Homo sapiens: one gene and its partners. The protein of the gene in region 5 purifies or fractionates together with the protein of the main gene of each other region. This does not show direct contact. Each region holds a gene or a part of one and is shown on either strand. Other genes may lie near its edges. The genes, in order: CPT1A, SLC25A17, CACNA2D1, CYP20A1, SLC11A2, EXD2 and RDH10.

Region 1 (3,500 bases), on a different chromosome or scaffold from region 5:
TGGTTTCTGGGGGCAGCACAAGTCATCGTGGCATTGGCTTGAGATATTCCCAACTTTTTTTTTGAGACAGAATCTCACTCTTGTTACCCAGGCTGGAGTGTAATGGCATGATCTCGGCTCACTGCAACCTCCACCTCCCGGGTTCAAGCAGTTCTCCTGCCTCAGCCTCCCGAGTAGCTGGGATTACAGGTGTGCGCCCCCATGCCCAGCTAATTTTTTGTATTTTTAGTAGAGATGGGGTTTCACCATGTTGAGCAGGCTGGTCTCGAGCTCCTGGCTTCAGGTGATCCACCCGCCTTGGCCTCCCAAAGTGCTGGGATTATAGGCGTGAGCCACCGTGCCCAGCCTTGTATTAAAACTTGAGTGCTGTACACATATGCAGCGTGTGGCACTGCCCCCCCAACCTTGGTAACGATTGTGCCATTGTTGAATTTTGCTTGGTGCATCATGTACCTCATGCTTCACTGTCTCTGCACCTGGGAGGCACTCTTGTTATCCCATTTTTAAAAATTTACAAGTCCCCATTATGCCTCAGAAAATCTTGTTTTCCCATTTTACAGGTGAGGAAACAGGTGCAGAGAGGCCAGGTGCTTGCCAGGGTGGCACTAGGCAGGGATAAAGCGGGCCAGCGGCTCCAGAGTCTATGCTCTCTCCACCTAAAGTTAAGAAAACAGTTACAGAGAAGTAAGAGGCAGTGTTAATATCAGATGAACTGGAATGAATGGGCCAAAATCGTATTTAAAATGCATGCTAATACAGTCTGTAAAGACTGTCACAGTTATGAAGCCTTGCTTTCCCAAGTAACATGCTCACTATGCGTAAACCAGAAGCAGCTGGGCAGAGTACCAGGAGCACAGTGACAAGCTCCTGTCTGTGACAGATCATTGACTAAAGATCATGTGATTAAAAGGTGACATGGAATAGAGGCATCGCATCTCAGAATCAGTGAGCTGGATTTTGAGAATTGATGAGCAGATTTTGCCCGTAAACGTGCAGTATGAGGGCATGCAAGCAGTTGATACCTTACCTACAGAAAGGATGTTATTTTATCTTTTTAAATTTTTTTCTTTTTTAAAAGAATTCCCTGCAAGTAAGCGCAGGACTTAGGAGTTTAGTAAGGAAATGCCACGCTCCAGTTTAGTACATTTTGAAACATGCTGAAATGACTATTCTGCAAGCAGTACAAATTGGTGACGTTGACTCAAGGTAGAAAACCTGAAAAGGCCTCTGGTCCAGGGACCAAAGTGAGAGGTTGTCAGGGAGCCACCCTTGTGACTCCAAAGAGCTTGCAGCTCAGAGACTCCACAAAGGAAGCCACCCCATCTGCTCCCCAGAACCCACGTGGCCCAGGTGTGGGAATGAGCTGCAAGGGGCACCAGCCACTGTGCCATGTACTTGGCAGGAGCGAGCGAAACTTCAGGACGGCCCCGAGGAAGGCATCTCTTCATCTCTGCCCTCCACACTCGGAGGTGAAGCATCTTGCCTGAGGGCTCCAGCTCGTACGCAGCAGGACTGAGATCGGAAGCAGGCAGGCTTGTTCGAGAACCTGTGGCTCTCATCACTGTGCTGCAGCTAAACGCAGAAAAAGGAAGCACAGACCAGCTTCCCGCATGAATGGAAGTGCAGAGACCCTCCATAAAATCTTAGCAACTAGAATCCAGCACTGTAGGAAAAGAATAGTCACCCACAGTGGCGTACACCAGCGGTGAGAGGCTGGTTTTGTGTCAGTAAATCCAGTCATACACTAAACCATACTGTTGGGTCAGAGAAGAGCCTAGATAGTGAGTTTCACAGATCCTAAGAAGACGTTTCACGTTTAACATCCATTCCTGATAAGAGCTCTTGGTCAAGGGGCTTAGTAATAGGGCTCTTTCCTTAACAGGATAAGTGGCATCGTGTATTAATAGCTAGCTACTGCTTCAAAGTAAAAGTGTGGGAGGCAGTCCCCTTAAAACAAGAAAGATGAGGATGCCTCTAGCAGATGACAGGGTAATTGGGCAGGAAGAACATTTATGTCTGTTCAGGAGATGGAACAGCAGAAAGGCTTTGACGATTAAGAGGCACACCCAGTGAGCCGGCCCAGCGCAGAGTTGCACAAAGACCACCAGCTTTCTTGCACAAGGATGATGGCCAAGTGGGAAATATAATAAGAGAATGTAATAGAAACGAGAATCTGGGGCCCCACCTTCCAGGCATACGTGTATAAAGCAGACTGGACTCTGGGAAGAAGGCCGAGGAGCACTCGCCCCCCAACTCCTCCCCAGGGAGAGGGAGAAAAAGCCATGATTTTGGATGAAAAAAAACTTCAGAACCATAGAGGAAGGGATGTTCCCAGTTCACACTGTTTTTTTTTTTTTGAGACGGAGCCTTACTCTGTTGCCCAGGCTGGAGTGCAGTGGCACGATCTCGGCTCACTGCAGCCTCGGCTGCTCACTCGGCTCCCAGGTTCAAGTGATTCTCCTGCCTCAGCCCCTCGAGTAGCTGAAACTACAGGTGCCTGCCACCACACCTGGCTAATTTTTGTATCTTTAGTAGAGACGGAGTTTCACCACGTTGGCCAGGCTGGTCTCGAGCTCCTGACCTCAAGTGATCCGCCTGCCTCAGCCTCCCAAAGTGCTGGGATTACAAGCCTGAGCCACCATGCCTGGCTTAGTTCACACATTTAATATGAACACAGTGAGAGGTCAGGCAGGGGCTTCAGGAGAGGAGCTTGCCCAGTTGATCTTGAGGCTTGAAAAGGCTAACATTTGAGAGTCACCTGTAACATTTTTGAAAAGAAAAGCAATCAGGCGGAGGCAGGACACGGGGAGGTGGACATGTACTTTTTCAAATCCTAAAACTTAAAGTGTAGGAGTTAGAAGACTGTTGTGATTAAAGTGGTCTCAGTCCTATAATCCTAGCACTTTGGGTGGCTGAGGCAGGTGGATCACTTGAGTCCAGGAGTTTGAGACCAGACTGGGCAATATGGGGAGACTCTATCTGTACAAAAAATACAAAAAAAAAAAAAAAAAAATTAGCCCAGCATGGTGGCGCATGCCTGTAGTCCAAGGTACTCCGGAGGCTAAGGTGGGAGGATCACTTGAGCCCCGGAGGTGGAGGCTGCAGTGAGCCGTGATCGTGCCACTGCACTACAGCCTGGATGACAGTGAGACCCTATCTTTAAAAAAATTGTTTTTAATAAAAATAAAATGCTGCAGTCCTCGTACAAAAGCAGGCCTGGGAAATAACGTGTAATGGAGGGAGCATTTGACATCAGTAGGGGACGGGGAGCTGGTGAGTAAATGGAGCTGGGAAATCTGGCTAAGTGGTTGCCTTTGGAAAAAAATAATCCAAGAGAAATAAGGAGTCAGACCAGAAACTGTGGTTCACAAGAGAGGAAAAATACGGTCAATGAGTGTAGGTAATAAGCTTAATCTTACCAAGAATCTAACAAGTACAACTTAAACAAGACTAGATTTTTGCCTACGGGGTTGGTAAAGGCTTTTTTTCATGTTGGTGAG
Region 2 (3,500 bases), on a different chromosome or scaffold from region 5:
CACTCCAGCCTGGGTGACAGAGCGAGACTCCGTCTCAAAAAAAAAAAAAGGAAGAAATGTTTTCTGTCGTCTTTTCCTTTGGAAATTAGGAATTAAATTAGACTGCTTTATGGTTCATGAGTAACAGATGAAGGGCAAGGGATCTGCAGTGGGAATTTAGCACATGGTCACACAGGGGCATCATTTAGTTCTGGGGCAACCTAGGGAGCTCAAAGGTGAGGTAAATGGCATTTCAGTGAAACTTGCTGATGTTAACAATTATAATCCTCAAAGGATTTAGTTTAAACATACACGGGCCGGGTATGGTGGCTCACGCCTGTAATCCCAGCACTTTGGGAGGCTGAGGCATGAGGATCCCTTGAGCCCACAAGTTTGAGACCAGCCTGGGTAACATAGTGAGACTCCGTCTCTAAAAATATTAAAAAATAGGCGGGGCACGGTGGCTCATGCCTATAATCCCAGCACTTTGGGAGGCCGAGGTGGGCAGATCACTTGAGGTCAGGAGTTCAAGACCAGCCTGGCCAAAATTGCGAAACCCCGCCTCTACTAAAATACAAAAATTAGCTGGGCATGGTGGTGTGCACCTGTAATCCCAGCTACTTGGGAGGCTGCAACAGGAGAATCGCTTGAACCCAGGAGGTGGAGGTTGCAGTGAGCTGAGATCACGCCACTGCACTCCAGCCTGGGCGACAGAGTGAGACTCTGTCTCAAAAAAAAAATTTTTTTTTTAATTAATAAAATAAACATGCACTGTTTGGTCTTGTAGTTGATGAGAAAAGAAAATCCAAAACTACACACATGGTGCTCCTGGAGATCATTAAAGAAGAAGGACTGTGAGTACTACCTCAGTTCACCTTCGTTAAAGCAACTTGTTAGGAGATTCCTGTGCTTCCAGTAGAGTTATGCTTACTTTCTATCTTTCTCACAGCACTCTAATGTTGTGAATTTGGAATTGCCTGATTTATAAGTACATAATTGTTTTCAGTTTCTTAAAGATCTGTAGTGAGGCATTTGATTCTTTTTATTTATTTTTGTACAATGCTTACCTTAAGCCATTTGATTCTTGATCATGGAGTCTTCCATGAAACTAAAATGCATTGTTTTATATACAGTAAACTGAAAAAAAAATAATAGTTGTTTAGTTCATTCCTGTCAGGTGCATTAAGACAGATTATGTACTTCTTGTTTTAGCTTTTTATTGGAAATAATTTTAAATTTACAAAAATTTGCAAAACTAAACTTAGTACAAAGAAGACAAGTATATGCTTTACCCAGATTCATCTGTTAACATCTTTTCCTGTTTGTTTTACTATTTTTGCTCATGCTGTCTCTCTCCCACCTCCCTTCTCTCCTTACACACACCACACACAAATTTCCTCTGAATTATTTGAGAGTAAGTTACATACATCAAAGCCTTTTAGCCCCATGACACTGACACTTTTAAACAATACAGTCCGCCTGTAATCCTAGCACTTTGGGAGGCCGAGGCAGGCGGATCACCTGAGGTCAGGAGTTCGAGACAGCCTGACCAACATGGAGAAACCCCGTCTTTACTAAAAATACAAAATTAGCCGGGCGTGGTAGCGCATGCCTACAATCCCAGCTACTAAGGAGGCTGAAGCAGGAGAATCACGTGAACCCAGGAGGTGGAGGTTGCGGTGAGCCGAGATCGCGCCATTGCACTCCAGCCTGGGCAACAAGAGCAAAACTCCGTTTCAAAAAAAAAAAGAAAATAGAAAGTTTCTCATTTTTAAGTTTGCCTCACATTTCCTCATGATTCCATTGAGGTTATACATTATTGGCCTGAATAATGCACAGGTGATATTGTGTCCTTCTCAAGATATCACATCTTGACTCACATATTGTCTGCCTGCCTTTGGTTGGCTAATTATGATTTCTTAAATTTGATTTAGCCACTGTGCAATTACTTTTTTCTTCCCTTGCAACTATAAGCAGTCTATGTGGAGATACTTCAAAACAATACAAATATCCTGTGCTTTATCAACATTTTTCCCCTAAATTTACCACGAAGTTGCAAAATGACGACTTTCCAACTCCAGCATTGCCTCTACAGGTACCAATGTTGGCATTCTGCTATAAGCAGGACCTCCCCTTCTCCTTCATTTATTTATCTACTTATTATTGGTATAGGCTCAGAAATGTCTATTTTTCAATGGTTTACAATTGATTACTGTACTTCATTATTTTGGTATTCAAATTGCCCCAGATTTGGCCTGTAGGAGCTCCTGTGAGCTCCTGTGCCCTTGTGAATTCCCCCATCTTTTTTTTTTTTGATACTTATTTCCTATAATTACTTCATTTTAACTGTTCTTGCCCTGTAATAAAACATGAATGGTACTCTATTAACTAACAGCCATGAGGAAGTTGTCTCTAATTTTATATACCAATGTTACTAAAGAAAATTAAGGGAGGGAATTAATAAATCAATCAGACTTTGTGTTGTTTCTTTGGTATCATTAGTGCTAGAATAGATTTCTTGATTTGGACATCCTTCAGAATGTGAGGTGTGTGTACAGTTTGGAGTCCCTTGTATTCGTGTAGGAGTGAAGCTTGAGACCATGTGAATGATGGTCAGCCTTTCCTAGGATTTCTCTGCCAATTTCTAATTTGTCCATGACCTTTACTTTGCTTATTGTGTTTTTCCCCTAGCCTGGCACCATATCGAGGGTGGTTTCCAGTGATTTCCAGTCTCTGCTGCTCCAATTTTGTCTATTTCTACACTTTTAATAGCCTCAAAGCACTCTGGGTCAAAGGTCAACATTCTACCACTGGAAAAGATCTGGTAGTTGGGTTTGTTGCAGGTAACAAGGTTTTCTGGGTATAAAATGTTTTTATATTTACCTTGTGGTTTTATATCCTCTAAGAGGTTATTTAGCCCAAAGTAATGCTTACAAAGAATATAGCCAGTTTTCCAACTTGGTTTTTTTTTTTTTAATTGTGTTAAAAAACGTGACATAAAATTTACCATGTTAATTTTAAGTGTAAGGTCAGTAGTGTTAAACATGTTCACAATGTTATGAAACAAATCTCCAGTACTTTTGCATATTGCAGACCTGATTCTATTCTCATTAAACTCCCCTTTTCCCTTTCCCTGAGCCCCTTAGTAACCACCATTCTACTTTCGGTTTCTAAGAATTTGACTACTTTAGATACTTGATATAAGTCGAATCATACACTACTTGTTTTTTTTGTGACTGGCTTACTTCACTTAGTATAATGTCTTCTACTTTCATCCATGCCATACAGCATGTGACATGACTTCCTTACTTTTTTATGACTGAATAATATTCCATTATATGTATATATCACATTCTGTTTATCCATTCATCTGTTAATAGGCACTTAAGTTGCTTCCATCTTTTGGCTGTTGTGAATAGTGCTATGAAAATGGATGTGTAGCTCTCTCTTTGAGAGCCTGCTTTCCATTCTTCTGGATATATACCCAGAAGTGGGATTGCTGGATCATTTGGAATTCTGTT
Region 3 (3,500 bases), on a different chromosome or scaffold from region 5:
TAATAGCTTTTACTTTATTGTATTCACTCACTCTAGCCCACTTCCGATCCTCATTAATGCTCACTTTTACTATGTTTGTTTACTTGCCTATTTTTCCAAAAAGTCATTTTTCTATATATTTTATAGCAAGTTTTTAACTGAGCCCTACCTAATTCACTTTAACAGACGCCTACTAGAATATAGTATAAATATGCCATATTTATCTTTTCCCTCAGGGCTGGAAACTTAACTTTTTTGTACAAATATGTAACTCCTTGGCCATATAACTTTGTACGTATTTTAAAGTATTAAGAGAGACTTCTGGAGGTGGGTTGCTAATCCAACATTAAAAATTTTGATTATTATACTAAATTGATTCCATCAATTTGTGTCAGAGTATAAACATACACACTGTTTTGAAAATTCCTCAAATCTATGTAGTATCAATTTGATTTTATCCCAACTTCAGAGGTAACTAGTCATATTTTATTTAATTTTTTTAAGTGTGCATGCCTTTATTTTGTTTGACACCTTTTGATGACCTTCTTGATAAACATTGCCAGTTTATAATATAAATGCCAAGTAACATTTAATTTTGATTGTGTTTTTGTATTTAATATTTATCCTTACCTGCAGGTTTAAGAAGTTTCCCTTGAATATATATTTCTACAGCTTTGCTTACCATAATGCCCGATTCATAGGCACCAGGTCCACTTTCTAAAAAAAAAATAAATAAATAAAACACCTATCAAGATATATTGAATAATAATATTGATTTTCCGTCATTAGATACAAATGGATAGTATTTTGCTTAAAAATTCTAGCATCTACAAACTATAAAATGTTTGTGCTCTCCTTCCTCTCTTCTTCCGTTGTATACACTAGGCTAACTGGTATATCCATGAATTGGTTTGTATTAATTGATTCGGGGACATTAATTAGCTTGGTTGCATCTGCTTTCACAACATAATGAATACATGCCAAATCTCTACTTCACAACATTTGTTAAAATATTAAGTAGTTCTGCTGAAGTGAAGTGGAAAGATTGATCCTGGATGCATAAAACTGACTTTGTCTTTTATAAGACGTATGTCACTGGGCAAAACTTTGAAATTCTCTGAACTTGTTTCCCCATTTAGGAAAATGAAGGTAAATACTACCTATGTGCAAAGATGTTCAGGGATTAAATTACAAGGTTTTTGGGAAATAAGTCAATAAAATATTTTAAAAGATAAGCTATTATTAATTGTATAATTATATTTTATAATACTGATAAAATGTAATTAATCAATGGAATTACTCTATTTAATTCCTTAAATGTTTTTCAATACATTTTCAGTTGTAATATGAGGGATTATCTACATGTGTTTCTATTTCTTATGCATGCCTAACAGATATGCTATCTCTAAATTACTGGAAGACTGTTTGCTGTGTATGCATTTTGCTTCTTCAACTAAATGATGTTTCTTTTCTATTTTCCTAATGCCTTGCAAATACTCTATTTTTAATGATGACTATTCTGAGTAGTTAACATAAAATGTAGTGATTTGGGGGGAGAGCAGATAGTAGCAGTAATTTATTATTTAAAAAATTGAGAAAAGCTGAATTCCAAAGCAATACTTACTGTTAAAGTAGGGAGCAGTGAAAACATAGTTATCATTATCTAGGCTCCTTTTATAGAAGCTGTCCTCATATGTCTCTGGGTTTTCTTGCCAATTTTCTCCAGCCCTAAGGAGGAAATGGCTCATCATTTGTATTCTTTAATCTACCTGATAACCTACTTTATCCTATGTGGACTTGCTGAGCTTTACAGATACGCCTACATCTCAGGTATGTCTAAAGAAGTTAGTGGTAATTGATAGCATAACTGATACTCATTACTGAGCAATGCATCAGCATAGCACTAAATTAAGAATCAGAAAAAGCTAACTCCTAGTTTTACTCCGTTGTTTACTAGTCAGGTAACAGGACAAGTAAGTTAATAGGTCAATTAATGTTAGTAAGCATTGGTGCCTACTCAGCCTACTTCATGGACTGTTACGAAGATAATAGAGATAAGATGCATCAAAGAAGAGTGAAAGATAATAAAGTGCTACATAAATATTGCTGATTGGTTATAATCATTGTGTTCATTTCACTGGTTTAGCTTGTATCTACAAAGAGAAAAATCTCTTTAAACGTCTCTTAAATGTTGTAATAAACATATTTGGCAAGCAAAAACATCATTGAAGAATTTTATAATGTCATTTTTCAGAGAAATAAAATCTTTTAATAATGTAAATACTGTAAACAATGGCTCCAATGTAATCTAATGGCAATCAGTTTATTTGAAGAATGGCTTCCTTAAGCAGTAATGTACAAATCCTTGGCGCAGTCTTTTGTAATGTACTTGTTTTTACAGATGTTATTTGAACTTACTCTTTGGGATAAACTCTGGTAATCCCACCATCAGTCACAACAAATCGTGCTTTCACTCCCTTGCTGAAACAGAAGACAAAACAAGGAAATGTTCTATTGAACATATTCTAAAAAACAAAGTTAGGTGTTGGTGATACAAAGAGAAGTAAGTTTAGGAAGTAAAGGAAATATATCAATAGATACACAACTATGTTTTAATAATTTAAATATCTATTAAATTTGTACTTGAAGGATGTTTAAGGAAGACATCTCATAGGAAATAATGACTGAGGTGCATTTTGAACATGGAGTATGAATTGACAGCAATGACACAGAAAGCAGGAAGGTATCACTTGTAGAGAGGAATGTATACATAAGGGAAAGCTACCAGAGATGGCTGGTGTTTGGTATAGAAAAAAAACGTAAGACAAAAGGAGAGAAACAGTAAGAAGTAAAGTTTCAAGTGCAAGTTCCTCAATGGTCAGCTAATGAATGATTTTGAATTCCATCTTAGAGAGCTTCACCTGTATCTTGAACTTAGAACTGCATTTTAGGAGTTAGATTCTGGCCAATATGAGTTGTATGGAGAATTGTCTAGAAGCTGCATGTGGAGGAATGGAGAACACTAAAGGCAGAAAAATCAGTTGCTGTGATTTCTTAGAAATGGGATCTTAGGGCCTTCATTATGAGGTAGAGAAGAAAACATTGCTAGGAGAAATATTTAGCATTTAGTGACTGAAAATGGGGTGGAGAAGAGATTTTAAATAAGAATCATACTCAGATTTTCTCAACTGGATGTATGGTAATGCTATTAGAAACCCAAATAAACACTGACTAGAAATCCTACTTTAGCACAAACAGAAACACACAATCATGCCCATTTAATTTGGTGTATTCACCCTGAAGTGTATGTGCATGAAAAGTTGAGTAATAGCAGACATTAGTACTGAAAAACACCCACAACTGAAAATGCAAGTTGTCAACAACTGTATAGTGATTTTCTTGAGAAATATTAAACATTATTAATGAACTGTAAATTTATGAGATTCATACCCAATTTCCACAGGAGAAACTAAATTGAAATGCAGAATACATATTTTTATTAATAAGAACAAATACTTACA
Region 4 (3,500 bases), on a different chromosome or scaffold from region 5:
ACCTGGGCCTCCCAAAGTGTTGAGATTGCAGGTGTGAGCCACGGCACCTGGTCCATAAAACATTTTTTTATGAACTAAAGAGCTCTCTCAAACTTGTGCTAACAAAATTTAAGGCAATATTAATTCTGTGCATGTGTTTGGGAAAATTAAAAAAACTTACATAGTGCTTATTTGGCCCACAAAAGTACAGTTCCATTTTTTATATAAATAGATTCTACCTAACTTATAACCCCTATGTCAAAATTTGTTTATCTTAAAATAGTTTGTATAAAAAGTCTTTACTGCTTTATTATGAAATAATAATGTTTATTGTAGAAAAATCTAGGAAAACACAAAAATGTCAAACTCAGTTAACAGTCATAGTTTCACTATTTGAAGTTAACCACTGTTAAGATTCTTTTTTTTTTTTTTTTTTTTTTGTTTTGAGACTGAGTCCCGCTGTCTATTGCCCAGGCTGGAGTGCCATGGCACCATCTCGGCTCACTGCAACCTCTGCTTCCCAGGTTCAAGTGATCCTCCCGCCTCAGCCTCCCAAGTAGCTGGGATTGCAAACATGTGCCACCACACCTGGCTAATTTTTGTGTTTTTAGTACAGATGGGGTTTCACCATGTTGGCCAGGCTGGCCTCGAACTCCTCAACCTCAAGTAGTCTGCCCACCTTGACCTCCCAAAGTGCTGGGATTACAGGCATGGGGCACCATGCCCAGCCCCACTGTTAAGATTCTAATGTAGGCCGGGCACAGTGACTCATGCCTATAACTCAAGCACTTTGGGAGTTCAAGGCGGCCAGATTGCTTGAGCTTTTAGAAGTTTGAGACCAGCCTGGGCAACGTGGCAAAAGCTTGTTTCTATAAAAAAATATAAAAACTTAGCCAGCCTTGGTGGCACCACCTGCAGTCCCAACTATTCAGGAGGCTGAGGCGAGAGGATGGCTTGAGCTCAGGAAGTCAAGGCTACAGTGAGCTGTGGTAGTGCCACTGCACTCCCTCATGGTTGACAGAGCAAGACCCTGTCTCAAAAGATTCTAATATAGATACTCTTTTTATGCATATGTAATTTATATATATTATACAAAATATTATTTGCATTTAACATATTCTGAACCAATAGTCTTTTCTACAAGCAGAACATTAGTATTCTTGTCACTCTGAATGTAGGCACAGATTTTTGTCATTCTTTATCTTTTTTGTGTGTGTGTGACAGAGTCTCACTGTCACCAGGCTGGAATGCAGTGGCGTGATCTCGGCTCACTGCAACCTCTGCCTCCCAGGTTCAAGCGATTCTCTTGCCTCAGCCTTTTGAGTAACTGGGGTTACAGGCGCGTGCCATCACACCCAGCTCATTTTTGTATTTTTAGTAGAGATGGGGTTTTACCGTGTTGGTCAGGCTGGTCCTGAACTCTTGACCTTGTGATCTGCCCAACTCAGCCTCCCAGAGTGCTGGGATTACAAGCATGAGCCACCGCGCTCGGTCCCTTTCTTTTTATTTATTTATTTATTTTGAGATGGAGTCTCGCTGTGTCACCCAGGCTGGAGTGTGGTGGCACGATCTTGGCTCACTGCAACCCCTGCCTCCCAGGTTCAAGCAATTCTCCTGCCTCAGCCTCCTGAGTAGCTGAGACTACGGGTATGTGCCACTACACTCAGCTAATTTTTGTATTTTTTTTTAGTAGAGACAGGGTTTCACCATGTTGGCCAGGCTGGTCTTGAACTCCTAACCTCAGGTGATTCACACCCCTTGGCCTCCTGAAGTGCTGGGATTACAGGCATGAGCCACTGTGCCCGGCCATTTTTTTGTGTTTTTAGTGGAGACAGGTTTTCACCATGTTGGCCAGTAGTGTATTTAGTTATTTAAGGAGGGCTCAATCAACAGGTTTAAATGGTGTGCTATTCATAATTATTGCAAAAATAGGCCGGGCCTGTAATTCCAGCACTTTGGGAGGCCAAGGCAGGTGAATCACTTGAGGCCAGGAGTTTGAGATCAGCCTGGCCAACGTGGTGAAACTCCATCTCTACTAAAAATACCAAAAGTAGCGGGCGTGGTGACAGGTGCCTCTAATCCCAGCTACTCGGGAGGCTGAGGCAGGAGAATCGCTTGAACCCAAGAGTCGGAGGTTGCAGTGAGCCGAGATCGCGCCATTGCACTCCAGTGTGGGTGACGAGCGAAAATCCGTCTCAACCAAGAAAAAAGAAAAAAAGAAAAAGAAAACTTAACTGGCCTTTGGGGCACATGCCTGTAATCCCAGCTTCTTGGGAGGCTGAGGCATGAGAAAAAAAATAAACCTGGGAGGTGGAGGTTGCAGTGAGTTGAGATTGTGCCACTGCACTCCAGCTTAGGCAATAAAACAAGACTGTCTCAAAAAAAAAAAAAAAAAAAACTTATTGAGAGAATAATATACCACTAATATTTAAAGAAATTTTTGGCTGGTGCCGTGGCTCACACCTGTAATCCCAGCACTTTGGGAGTCCAAAGTGGGCGTATAACTTGAGGTCAGGAGTTCAAGAACAGCCTGGCCAACATGGGGAAACCGCATCTCTACTAAAAATACAAAAATTAGTGGGTGTGGAGGCGGGCGAATGTAATCCCAGCTAGTTGAGAGGCTGAGGCAGGAGAATGTCTGGGAGGTGGAGGTTGCAGTGTGCCGAGATCGCACCACTGTACTCCAGCCTAGGTGACAGAGTGAGACTCCATAGGTCTCAGCCAGACTCTGGAGGTCTCAGCCCAGGCTTGAGTGCAGTGGCATGATCTGGGCTCACTACAACCTCCATCTCCCCAGTTCAAGCGATTCTCCTGCCTCAGCCTCCCGAGTAGCTGCGACTACAGGCGAGTGCCTCCATGCCCAGCTAATTTTTTGTATTTTTAGTAGAGACGGGGTTTCACCATGTTAGCCAGGATGGTCTTGATCTCCTGACCTTGTGATCTGTCCACCGCGGCTTCCCAAAGTGCTGGGATTACAGGTGTGAGCCACAGCGCCCGGCCAAAAAAAGGAATTTTTAAGAGGAAAAAGAATGCTACCAACCTAAACACATTTCTGTGACTGTTTATATTTTTCCCTGTTCCACATACATACATTTTTACATAGTACGTTCATTGCAGCATGAGTTACTTTTCACTTAATAAATTTTAAACATTTTCCAGCTGGGTGTGGTGGCTCATGCCTGTAATCCCAACACTTGGAGAGGCCAAGTCAGGCTTATTGGGTGAGTCCAGGTGTTTGAGACTAGCCTAGGCAACATGGCGAAACTGCATCTCTACAAAAAATACAAAAATTAGCCAGGTGTGCTGGCGCACACCTGTAGTCCCAACTACTCAGGAGGCTGAGGTGGGAGGATTGCTTGAGCCCAGGAGGTAGAGGTTGCAGTGAGCCATGATCATGCCACTGCACTCCAGCCTAGGTGACAAAGCACAACCCTCAAATAAATAAATAAATACATGTTAAACATATACCTTTATTACTTCATTTTTGTAAGAGCTTCAGGGAATAGGCTTTTTTAAAGGGA
Region 5 (3,500 bases):
TTACAGATGTGAGATACTGTGCCTGGCCTGTTTTTTTGAGATAGGATCTTGCTCTATTACCCAGACTAGAGTTCAGTGGCACAATCATGGCTCACTATACCCTTGACCTCCCAGGCGCAAGCAGCCTTCCTACCTCTGTCTCTTGAATAGTTGGGACCACAGGTGTGCACCATGATACCCAGCTATTTTTAAAATTTTTTGTAGAGACAGGGTTTTGCCATGTTGCCAAGGCTGGGCTTGAACTCCTGGGCTCAAGTAATCCTCCCACCTCTGCCTCCCAAAGTTCAGGGATTATAGGTGTGAACTACCATGGGTGACCTGACAAATTTTTTGGATGCTAGCTATCTGGAGGTGTTTTTTTCTGGCTTCAGTGAGTCAGCATAACTAAATCTGATTTTCAGCTGTATTGTTTGGCCAGATAAGTTTCTGACTTTGTTATATGCCACCCAGTTCCAACCATCTTCCCTTGAGTCCTTTTGCATACGTGGGCATTATTATTACATTAAAGGTGACTCCAACCTTTTCTGTTGTTGTGGTGGTGGTTTGTTGAGACAGTCTTGCTCTTGTTTGTTGCCCACTCTGGAGTGCAGTGGCATGATCATAGCTCACTGCAGCCTTGACCACTGGGGCTTAGGCTGTCCTCCTGCCTCAGCCTCCCAAGTAGTTGGGACTACAGGTGTATGCCATCATGCCTGGATACTTTTGTACTTTTTTTTTTTCCTATAATTTTTATTTTAGGTTTGGAGATGGATACATGTGAAGGTTTTTTCTTTCTTTCTTTCTTTTTTTTTTTTTTTTTGTGAAAGCAAGTTTATTAAGAACGTAAAGGAATAAAGAAAGGCTATTCCGTAGGCAGAGCAGTCACATGTGAAGGTTTGTTACATAGATAAACACGTGTCATGGGGGTTTGTTGTACATATTATTACATCACCCCGATATTAAGCCCAATACACAATAGTTAACTTTTCTGCTTCTCTCTCTCCTTCCACCCTCCCCCATCAAGTAGACCCCAGTGTCTGTTGTTTCTGTCTGTGTGTTCATAAGTTCTTATCATTTTGCTCCCAATTTTTATACTTTTTGTAGAGATGGGGTTTTGCCATGTTGCCCAGGCTGGTCTCAAACTCCTGGGCTTAAGGGATCTACGTTGGCATCCCAAAGTGCTGAGATTACAGGAATGAGCCACTGTGCCTGGTCCACCCCAACCTTTTTTTTTTTTTTTTGAGATGGAGTCTCGCTTTGTTGTCCAGGCTGGAGTGCAGTGGCGCAATCTCAGCTCACTGCAACCTTCGCCTCCCGGGTTCAAGCAATTCTCCTGCCTCAGCCCCCTGAGTAGCTGGGATTACAGGCATGTGCCACCATGCCCAGCTAATTTTTGTATTTTTAGTAGAGACGGGGTTTCGCCATGTTGGCCAGGCTGATCTTGAACCCTGTCCTCAGGTGATCCACCTGCCTCAGCCTCCCAAAGTGCTGGGATTACAGGTGTGAGCCACCGCGCCCAGCCTGACCCCAACCTTTTCATGTTTGTTTTGTCTTCCCAGCTATGGTCAGGATAGATATGTTCTTCTGCAATCATTTAATATTCTTTCTTGACCCATATTTGGACCGTATTAGCATCCTTATTCTCCTCTAAACTTTTTAGGATTGTTTTTAGGAAATTAAGTGGAAGTTAGTAAATGGCAATTATATTCTTCTCAAGTAGAAAGGAAAAAGAAAAAAGTAAGATCAATTACTGCCTTGACCTTCGTTCACAGGTTCTGCCACGTGGTAGCACACTTTTCCTTCTCCAGGTGAGAGCCACAGTGCAGTGATCGGCCAAGTGGAGGCACGTTCTGGTATTTCTTCTCTAGTCTGGAGGCTTATAAAGGACTGTTTATGGTTTAGTGCCAAAATGTGAATTCCAAATTGTGGAGGAATTTTTTAGAAATGATTAATCAGAACCGTGTCTTTCTACTGTTTGATGTTTAGGTCCCACGAGTCATCCTGTGGCTGATGGTGGAGTTGGCTATCATCGGCTCAGACATGCAAGAAGTCATTGGCTCAGCCATTGCTATCAATCTTCTGTCTGTAGGAAGGTGAGGGGTTTTCCTCTAGAAAGTCATCAGTGTTTTGCTGGATTTCCAAGCAGAGATAAAAACAAAAACCCAATTCATTTTTAATTTTGAAGACTCAACTCAATTGTTATTTCTTCTGTGGAACCTTTCTGGAAACAATTTCTTCTCCCCTGGTAGATGTAGACTCTACATCTTCCGTTTCCCATGGTGGGTTATGCTTACCTTTATTAGAATGTGTGGCGTTTTGTATCGCAATTATTGATTTGTATGTCATTTTATCCCGCTAGATACTATCTTTTTATTTTATTTTATTTATTTATTTTTTTGAGACAGAGTCTTTCTCCGTCACCCAGGCTGGAGTGCAGTGGTATGATCTTGGCTCACTGCAACCTCCGCCTCCCAGGTTCAAGCAATTCTTGTGCCTCAGTCTCCTGAGTAGCTGGGATTACAGGCACCTGCCACCATGTCCAGCTAATTTTTGTGTTTTTAGTAGAGACGGGATTTCACCATGTTGGCCAGGCTGGTCTCTAACTCCTGACCTCAGGTCTAGGAATGCCCGCCTCAGCCTCCCAAAGTGCTGGTATTACAGGCGTGAGCCACTACACCCAGCCCCCACTAGATACTATCTATCTAATCCTATAAAATTCTATCTGTCTAACTCCATGAGGGTAAGACCCAAACTTTTCAGCTTTGTATCCTAAGAGTGACATAGTAGACTCTCAAAGTTTAAATGAATGTAATTAAGTTGATGCTGTTACCCTACTTTACCCAAGGCCTAGTTTTCTGCCATTGTCCCTCCTCCCTCAAGTCCTAGCTTCTCCAAGTGTTCTTTATCTGGAGAGCTGTTGGGAAGAGAGTGTTTTTCAATGTTTCCTTTCTTTCCGTCTCTCTGACTTCCATATCTCATCTCTGACCTAGAATTCCTCTGTGGGGTGGCGTTCTCATCACCATTGCAGATACTTTTGTATTTCTCTTCTTGGACAAATATGGTAAGGAGAGCGGGAATGGGAGGGTCAAAGGAGCTGCTCTCTGTCATGTGGCAGATGGGGAAGTCTACCTTCTCTGAGCTCACTGCTGCCTTTTTTCCTTTAGGCTTGCGGAAGCTAGAAGCATTTTTTGGCTTTCTCATCACTATTATGGCCCTCACATTTGGATATGAGGCAAGTGGTACAGGATATTCATTAGCTTCTTAAAATAAGTTTTTGTGGTTTTTTTTTTTAGCCTTTTATTATAAAAGACAGTAATAATGCTAGTATGATTCACTTATAGTGGGTGTATCAACAAAAAGCCAATTTTTCCCTGGGCCAATTTTAAAGGAATATGATCTATAGCAAAGATTAGCATGCAGAAAGGCCTGCAGGGGCTCCCAGGTTTAAAATGACTAGATATTTTAGGGCTTTCCAGACTAGATTCTTTGGTCCCAAGTTGACCATCTGACAACAGAACAGC
Region 6 (3,500 bases), on a different chromosome or scaffold from region 5:
GTAAAATGTAGGTGGGCACAGTGGCTCATGCCTGTAATCCCAGTAGTTTGGGAGGCCAAGGTGGGAGGATCACCTGAGATCAGGAGTTTGAGACCGGCCTAGTCAGCATGGTGAAACCCCATCTTTAATAAAAATTCAAAAATTAGCCAGGCATTGTGGCATGTGCTTGTAGTCCCAGTTACTCAGGAGGCTGAGACATGAGAATCACTTGAACCCAGGAGGCGGAGGTTGCAGTGAGCTGAGATCATAACACTGCACTCCAGCCTGGGGGACAGAGTAAGACTCCATCACAAAAACAAAAACAAACAAAAAAAACCAACGTAAGATGTATTATACATGTAAAATATACACCAAATTTTTGAATACTTACTACAAAAAAAGGATGTAAACTTTTTATAATTTCCATACTGATTTTTTTTTTTTGAGATGGAGTTTTGCTCTTGTCACTCCGGCTGGAGTGCAATGGCACGATCTCAGCTCACTGCAACTTCTGCCTCCCGAGTTCAAGCAATTCTCCTGCCTCAGCCTCCCAAGTAGCTAGGACTACAGATGCCCGCCACCACACCCGGTTAATTTTTGTATTTTTAGTAGACACGGGGTTTTACCATGTTGGCCAGGCTGGTCTCGAACTCCTGACCTCAGGTGATCCACCCACCTCGGCCTCCCAAAGTGCTGAGATTACAGGCGTGAGCCACCACGCCTGGCCTCATACTGATTTTTATGGTGACTTCTTTATCGTGGTAAAATATATATAACATAACATTTACCATTTTAGCCTTTTTTTTTTTGGAGACAAGGTCTGGCTCTATCGCAAAGGCTGGAGTGCAGTGGCGCGATCTTGGCTCACTGCAACCTCCACCTCCTGAGCTCAAGCCATCCTCCCATCTTAGCCTCCCAAGTAGCTGGGACTACAGGTAGTCCCCACGATGCCTGGGTAATTTTTTTTTTGTATTATTTTTGTAGAGATGGGGTTTCACAATGTTGCCCGGGCTGGTCTCAGATTCGTGAGCTCAAGCGATCCCCTAGACTCGGCCTCCCAAAGTGCTGGGATTACAGGCCTGAGCCACCACGCCTGGCCCATTTTAGCCATTTTTAAGTGTACAATTCAATGACAATAAGTACATTCACACTGCTGTGCAACCATCACCATCACCCATTTCCAGAACAACTTCATCCTTGCAAATAGAAACTGTAATTCAACAAGAATTCCCATTCTCTTCTAACCCCTGATAAGCCCTATTATACCTTCTATCACTATGAATTCCATATTGATTTTTTAATATTTATGTTGAAATAATGCTTGGAATATACTGGGTTCAATATAGTCATGTGCTGTATAACAATGTTTCGGTCAACAACAGATGACACATACAATAGTTCTACAAAATTATAAGATTACAATGGTGCAGAAAAATTCCTATTGCCTAGTGACATCATAGCCATCCTAACCGTCCTAACGTTGCTGCACAATGCGTTACTCACAAATGTGTGTAATTATGCTGGAGTTAACGAACCTACAGCACAGCCAGTCGTATAAAAGTATAGCACATGCAATTATGTATAGCACATACCTGATAACGACAATAAACGACTATGTTACTGGTTTATTTATTTACCATATTTTTTATTTTACGGTGTACTCCTTCTACTTATAAAAAAAATTAACTGTAAAGCAACCTCAGGCAGCTCCTTCCGAAGTTATTCCAGAAGGCATTGTTATCATAGATACAGCTCCATGCCTGTTATTGCCCCTGAAGACTTTCCAGTGGGACAAGATGTGGAGGTGGAAGACAGTGATATTGATGATCCTGACTCTGTGTATGTCTAAGCTAACATGAATGTATGTGTTTGTGTCTTAGTTTTTAACAAAAAAGTTTAAAAAGGTAAAAAAAAAAAAATTTTAAGTTGAAAAGAGCTTATAAAGAGATAAACATTTTTATACAGCTGTACAACATATTTGTGTCTTAAGCTGAGTGTTATTACAAGTCAAAAAGTTAAAACAATTAAAAAGTTTATAAAATAAAAAAGTTATAGTAAACTAAGGTTAACTTATTATTCCAAAAAAATTTTAAATAATTTGAGTGTAGCCTAAATACACACGTGTTTATAAGATCTAAAGTAGTGTACAGTCACGTCCTAAGCCTTCACATTCACCCACCACTCACTCACAGGTTCACCCAGAGCAACTTCCAGTCCTGCAAGCTCCATGCATGGTAGATACCCTACATAAGTGTAACACTATTTATCTTTTCTTGAGACGGAGTCTCACTCTGTTGCCCAGGCTGGTGTGCAGTGGCGTGATCTCGGCTCACTGCAAACTCTGCCTCCCAAGTTCAAGCGATTCTCCTGCCTCAGCCTCCTGAGTAGCCGGGGCTACAGGCGTGTGCCACCACACAAGACTATTTTTTAAATTTTTAGTAGAGACGGGGTTTCACCATGTTGGCCAGGCTGGTCTCGAACTCCTGACCTCAGGTGATCTGCCCGCCTCAGCCTCCCAAAGTACTGGGATTATAGGCGTGAGCCTCCATGCCCGGCCCACTGTTTAGCTTTTATACCACATTTTTACTGTACTTTTATGTTTAGGTATGTTTAGATACACAAATACTTACCACTGTGTTACAACTGCCTACAGGACTCAGTACAATAACATGCCATATAGGTCTATAGCCTAGGAGTAATAAGCTATACCATACAGCCTAGGTGTGTAGTCAGCTATTCCATCTAGGTTCGTGTAAGTGTGCTCTATCGTGTTCACAAAATGACACATTTCACAGAACAGATCCTCATTAAGTGATGCCATTACTACAGTTCACCTTGTTTCTTTTTATATCTTTAATGTGGCTACTAGAAAATTTTAAATTGGGGCTCACATTCTACTTCTAATGGACACTACTGTGCTAAAATATAATGTGCAAGTAAGGAAATAGAGATGATGCTGGAATGAGTAGATACAGGACAAGTCATGAGGGGCCATCATTATCCTACAGGACACTGGAGAGCAAATAACAGACTTATAAGGAGAGTGACAGGATGAGACCACCATGGTACTAATGTGGGTGCTAGCCTGGAGGAGAGCAAGGCCGTAGGCAGAGAGACCTGTTAGAAGCTCATAAAGCAGAGCGGAGAGGCAAAGAATACTCGAATTATGGCAGAGGAATGTAGAATGAAAAAGAACCACAGCTCCTGAACAGAATGACTGCATCACAACCACCTGGAAAAACAACAAAGTCATCAACCAACTTTTAGAAATTATATGGTAATTCAGAAAGTCTGATGAGTATAAAATCAATAGCTTTCCAAACCTATTATAAAAATGTGAAAAAAGAAATCTCATTCATAATAGCAATATACCTGTATACTATTTTAAAACTACATAAAAAAACCACATAATCACATACACAAGTCTAGGAAAGAATTCAACAAGAAATGTGTCAGATCAATACAAAGAGGAACAGAAAACTTTAGTGAAGATCTAGAAGAAGACCAGAAGAGTGGAGATG
Region 7 (3,500 bases), on a different chromosome or scaffold from region 5:
GTGCAGTGGCGCGATCTCGGCTCACTGCAAGCTCCGCCTCCCAGGTTCACGCCATTCTCCTGCCTCAGCCTCCCGAGTAGCTGGGACTACAGGCGCCCGCTACCACGCCTGGCTAATTTTTTGTATTTTTAGTAGAGACGGGGTTTCACCGTGTTAGCCAGGATGGTCTCGATCTCCTGACCTCGTGATCCGCCCGCCTCGGCCTCCCAAAGTGCTGGGATTACAGGCGTGAGCCACCGCGCCCGGCCAAAACTCTATTCTTAAGTCACTCAATAAATATTTGATAATAATAGGCTTAAATATTTAGAAGATAACCTATTCAGAGAATACTCACATGGGTCTATGTTCTGAAGTTTTAAAAGGTAAGCATTATGGGCTGGGCACGGTGGCTCACACCTGTAATCCCAGCACTTTGGAAGGCCAAGGCAGGCGGATCACTTGATGTCAGGAGTTCGAGACCAGCCTGGTCAACATGGAGAAACCCTGTCTCTACTAAAAATACAAAAAAAGTAGCCGTGGTGGTGCTAGCCTGTAATCCCAGCTACTCAGGAGGCTGAGGCAGGAGAATTGTTTGAACCCGGGAGGCCGAAGTTGCAGTGAGCAGACATGGCGCCACTGCACTCCAGCCTGGGTGACAGAACAATACTCCATCTCAAGAAAGAAAAAGGTGAGCATTATGTTGGACTAAAGCTGTGTAAGACCATTATTGCAAACCAGGGCTGTCTCACCCTTGTTGTCACTCATATTTTCTTTTGCTTTCCTACATAACTTTCCATTCTCCCTGTCCCACATGTGTTCTGATTTTTACTATTTTGTGTTAGAACTCTGCTCATTGGTGTGAGGCTAGTGACTTGATAAGGCTGGTGTTGGTATGCCAGTTTGAATGAAGCTCACAATGAATGTGTAACAGCCATTCATATTTACCAATGATCAGTCCTCAAAAAGAGGACCCCCTTGGCAATTCTTTCCTTCCCTCTTAACCATGTACCATTTCTGTACCCTTTGGAAGCCTTTCCTCAGCCTGGCATAATTCTGTACAGCCTTCCAGTCTGCTGTGACGCTTCATCTTCCAATGTTGTTCCATCACCAGTAGCTCTCCTAGGAACCTTCTCCTGGTCACCAGTCAAGACTTAGTGATAGATTTGGGGTAGGTTCTAGTCAGCATAATCTACTGTGAAACACCCAGTACAAGACCATGGAAAATGAATGCACTATCATGCACTTTAACACTAGCATAGAAATTATTCATGTGGGCTGTTTGTATCTGGGTGAGATGTAAAAACTTGAAAGATACCTCTCTTGGGCGGGGTGCAGTGACTCAAGCCTGTAATCCCAACACTTTGGGAGGCCGAGGAGGGTGGATTGCTTGAACCCAGGAGTTCAAGACCAGCGTTGGCAACATGGCGAAACCCTGTCTCTACCAAAATACAAAAATTAGCTGGGCGTGGTGGCACGTGCCTGTAGTCCCAGCTCCTCAGGAGGCTGAGGCAGGAGGCTGGCTTGAGCCCAGGGGTTGTAGACTGCAATGAGCTGAGATCGCAACACTGCACTCCAGCTTGGGTGACGAGAGCCAGACTCTGTCTCAAAAAAAGGAAAAGAAAAATATCTCTCTGTATTCTACTTTGAAATATGGAAAGTTGGTCTCCATGCAAACCCATGTTTTCCTCAAAGTACTAACATTGCTTTACTTGTTATTTTTTAAGAGAAGTAGAATCTTAGCTTGCTATTTCTAAAAGCCAAAGTTTATCTGTAGATCCTTTTTAACCGAAGAGCTGCATTTGGCCTTTATACGTGAGCAGCAAATTGATCCCTGATTAACCAAAAGGGGGAAGCAAAAGCATTTAACTCCAGGCCTTTTATATTCTGAAGAATTTTTGCATGGTAAAGGACTAAATCTGTCAAATAGCTAGTAGGTAATTTACTTCTATTGATATGGTAGTCAGACAAGATAATTGGTAGTTAATTAATAGACCACTTAACTTAAAAGGTTTCACAGTTTTAAAATACTAATTACTGAATTAAGCATTTATCTATATCCAAATGTCTAAAGTCTATTTAGTTAAAATCTATCCAGGAAAAGTAAAAGCCCACCAGCTAGATCTGAGTAATGTAGCACTTAAAGACATTAGTGCTGCAGTTGTACCTAATATCTCATAAATGGTCCCTAATCATTAATGTTTAGGTTCTTATGTGATTTACTGGTTTTTAATCTCACATACTGCATTCCTGTGTTCTCTGGTTACAGAAACTAGTTTTGTTCAAGGTTTCTTACATTTAGAATTTCAAAAATCATTTCTAAAGTATTCATAAAAATATTTGGCCAGTATTTCTCCTTACCATAATAACTGTAAGACTAATTAGTTTATAGAGAATATTGATTTCCTATCTTAAGATAGCTACTAAACACTTGGAATTCATGGCCTATTTTTAGAAGTCTCCAGTAGAACTGGTTTCTGTTATTAAATATATGTCATATGTATAAAAATGTTTGAACTTTAGAAGTACTTTCAATGTCTTAAACAGAGTTGTAAATTGACCTGGGGTCAATTTTATCTTATTCTTGTAGTCACAGTTGAAAACTGAGTAAAACATCTCTTTTGATAGGAACTGCTTGGTACCTGGGACTGAATACCTATATACACCAAATAGGATCACATGCTCATTGAACTTTGAGTTTCTGTATTTGATACATTACATGCTGGGCCCAAATCTGTTGCTACTAGAAATCAAAATCTATGACATGATAAAATATCACTTTACATAGCTGGTGTGAATAGGGAACCAGACGCTGCATCAGATAAAAAGTTCTCCAACATCTTCAATATGTTCTAATCTGTGTCTGTTTTTCTCAGTTGTTTAAAAAATAACTGCTAAATAACCAATGTCATAATTTCTAACCTAAATGAAAAAAACAGCAATGCTCCCCTCATTGCCAAATCCAGTGTGCAGCTTCATCTTTCTACAGAATGTGACCCTCTTGACCGTCTCCTTGAAACTCAAGTGCTTTAGCTTCCATGATAAGCCCACTTTGTCGTGCTTCTCTGTCTGCCTTCAACTACCTTGACTGCGCCACACATTCTCTTAAAGCAGCATGTCACAAAACTGAACAAACTCCTCTTTGCTCCTTCTTGCATTCCCTGGTCACCAGGCTTAGAAACATCAGCATTATCTTCACCTCTCCAGCCTGCGTACATTCATGGGTCCCCAAATCCTGACTATTTGCTTGTGCCCCTGTGCTTTGATTGATCGCCCCTTTCCTTTCCTACTTCATCCTGTGTGCCTCCATCACCTCTTGCCTGGACTCTTGAAAGTGCCTCTGATCTTCTTTTCCTGTATTCGCTTTTGGCTTTCCAACCTAGGGTCATCTAAGCAGCCTTGAGTTTGTTATCTGCCTGCTTAAAACACTTGTATGACCATATTGCTCACAGCGTGAAGTCCAGGCTCATTAGCATGGCATCCTGGGCCTTCCAAAGCTGATTTCCACCTGCTTTTCCAGGTCA

Evidence for each region.
Region 1: the proteins of SLC11A2 (region 5) and CPT1A purify together in Homo sapiens (affinity purification with mass spectrometry; one large-scale study listed by BioGRID and IntAct). This does not show direct contact.
Region 2: the proteins of SLC11A2 (region 5) and SLC25A17 purify together in Homo sapiens (affinity purification with mass spectrometry; one large-scale study listed by BioGRID and IntAct). This does not show direct contact.
Region 3: the proteins of SLC11A2 (region 5) and CACNA2D1 purify together in Homo sapiens (affinity purification with mass spectrometry; one large-scale study listed by BioGRID and IntAct). This does not show direct contact.
Region 4: the proteins of SLC11A2 (region 5) and CYP20A1 purify together in Homo sapiens (affinity purification with mass spectrometry; one large-scale study listed by BioGRID and IntAct). This does not show direct contact.
Region 6: the proteins of SLC11A2 (region 5) and EXD2 purify together in Homo sapiens (affinity purification with mass spectrometry; one large-scale study listed by BioGRID and IntAct). This does not show direct contact.
Region 7: the proteins of SLC11A2 (region 5) and RDH10 purify together in Homo sapiens (affinity purification with mass spectrometry; one large-scale study listed by BioGRID and IntAct). This does not show direct contact.

Annotation. Positions count from the first base shown.
Region 1 is NC_000011.10:68,768,917-68,772,416, reverse strand, and holds part of CPT1A (carnitine O-palmitoyltransferase 1, liver isoform), read left to right. Parts: intron 1-3,500. UniProt on the Homo sapiens protein: Catalyzes the transfer of the acyl group of long-chain fatty acid-CoA conjugates onto carnitine, an essential step for the mitochondrial uptake of long-chain fatty acids and their subsequent beta-oxidation in the mitochondrion.
Region 2 is NC_000022.11:40,791,847-40,795,346, reverse strand, and holds part of SLC25A17 (peroxisomal membrane protein PMP34), read left to right. Parts: intron 1-766; coding exon 767-833; intron 834-2,670; coding exon 2,671-2,822; intron 2,823-3,500.
Region 3 is NC_000007.14:81,968,278-81,971,777, forward strand, and holds part of CACNA2D1 (voltage-dependent calcium channel subunit alpha-2/delta-1 isoform 1 preproprotein), read right to left. Parts: coding exon 3,500-3,500; intron 2,461-3,499; coding exon 2,398-2,460; intron 1,708-2,397; coding exon 1,604-1,707; intron 697-1,603; coding exon 610-696; intron 1-609. UniProt on the Homo sapiens protein: The alpha-2/delta subunit of voltage-dependent calcium channels regulates calcium current density and activation/inactivation kinetics of the calcium channel. Plays an important role in excitation-contraction coupling.
Region 4 is NC_000002.12:203,301,518-203,305,017, forward strand, and holds part of CYP20A1 (cytochrome P450 20A1), read left to right. Parts: 3' UTR 1-3,500.
Region 5 is NC_000012.12:50,998,885-51,002,384, reverse strand, and holds part of SLC11A2 (natural resistance-associated macrophage protein 2), read left to right. Parts: intron 1-1,965; coding exon 1,966-2,072; intron 2,073-2,969; coding exon 2,970-3,040; intron 3,041-3,143; coding exon 3,144-3,211; intron 3,212-3,500. UniProt on the Homo sapiens protein: Proton-coupled metal ion symporter operating with a proton to metal ion stoichiometry of 1:1. Selectively transports various divalent metal cations, in decreasing affinity: Cd(2+) > Fe(2+) > Co(2+), Mn(2+) >> Zn(2+), Ni(2+), VO(2+).
Region 6 is NC_000014.9:69,197,998-69,201,497, reverse strand, and holds part of EXD2 (exonuclease 3'-5' domain-containing protein 2), read right to left. Parts: intron 1-3,500. UniProt on the Homo sapiens protein: Exonuclease that has both 3'-5' exoribonuclease and exodeoxyribonuclease activities, depending on the divalent metal cation used as cofactor.
Region 7 is NC_000008.11:73,301,102-73,304,601, forward strand, and holds part of RDH10 (retinol dehydrogenase 10), read left to right. Parts: intron 1-3,500. UniProt on the Homo sapiens protein: Retinol dehydrogenase with a clear preference for NADP. Converts all-trans-retinol to all-trans-retinal. Has no detectable activity towards 11-cis-retinol, 9-cis-retinol and 13-cis-retinol.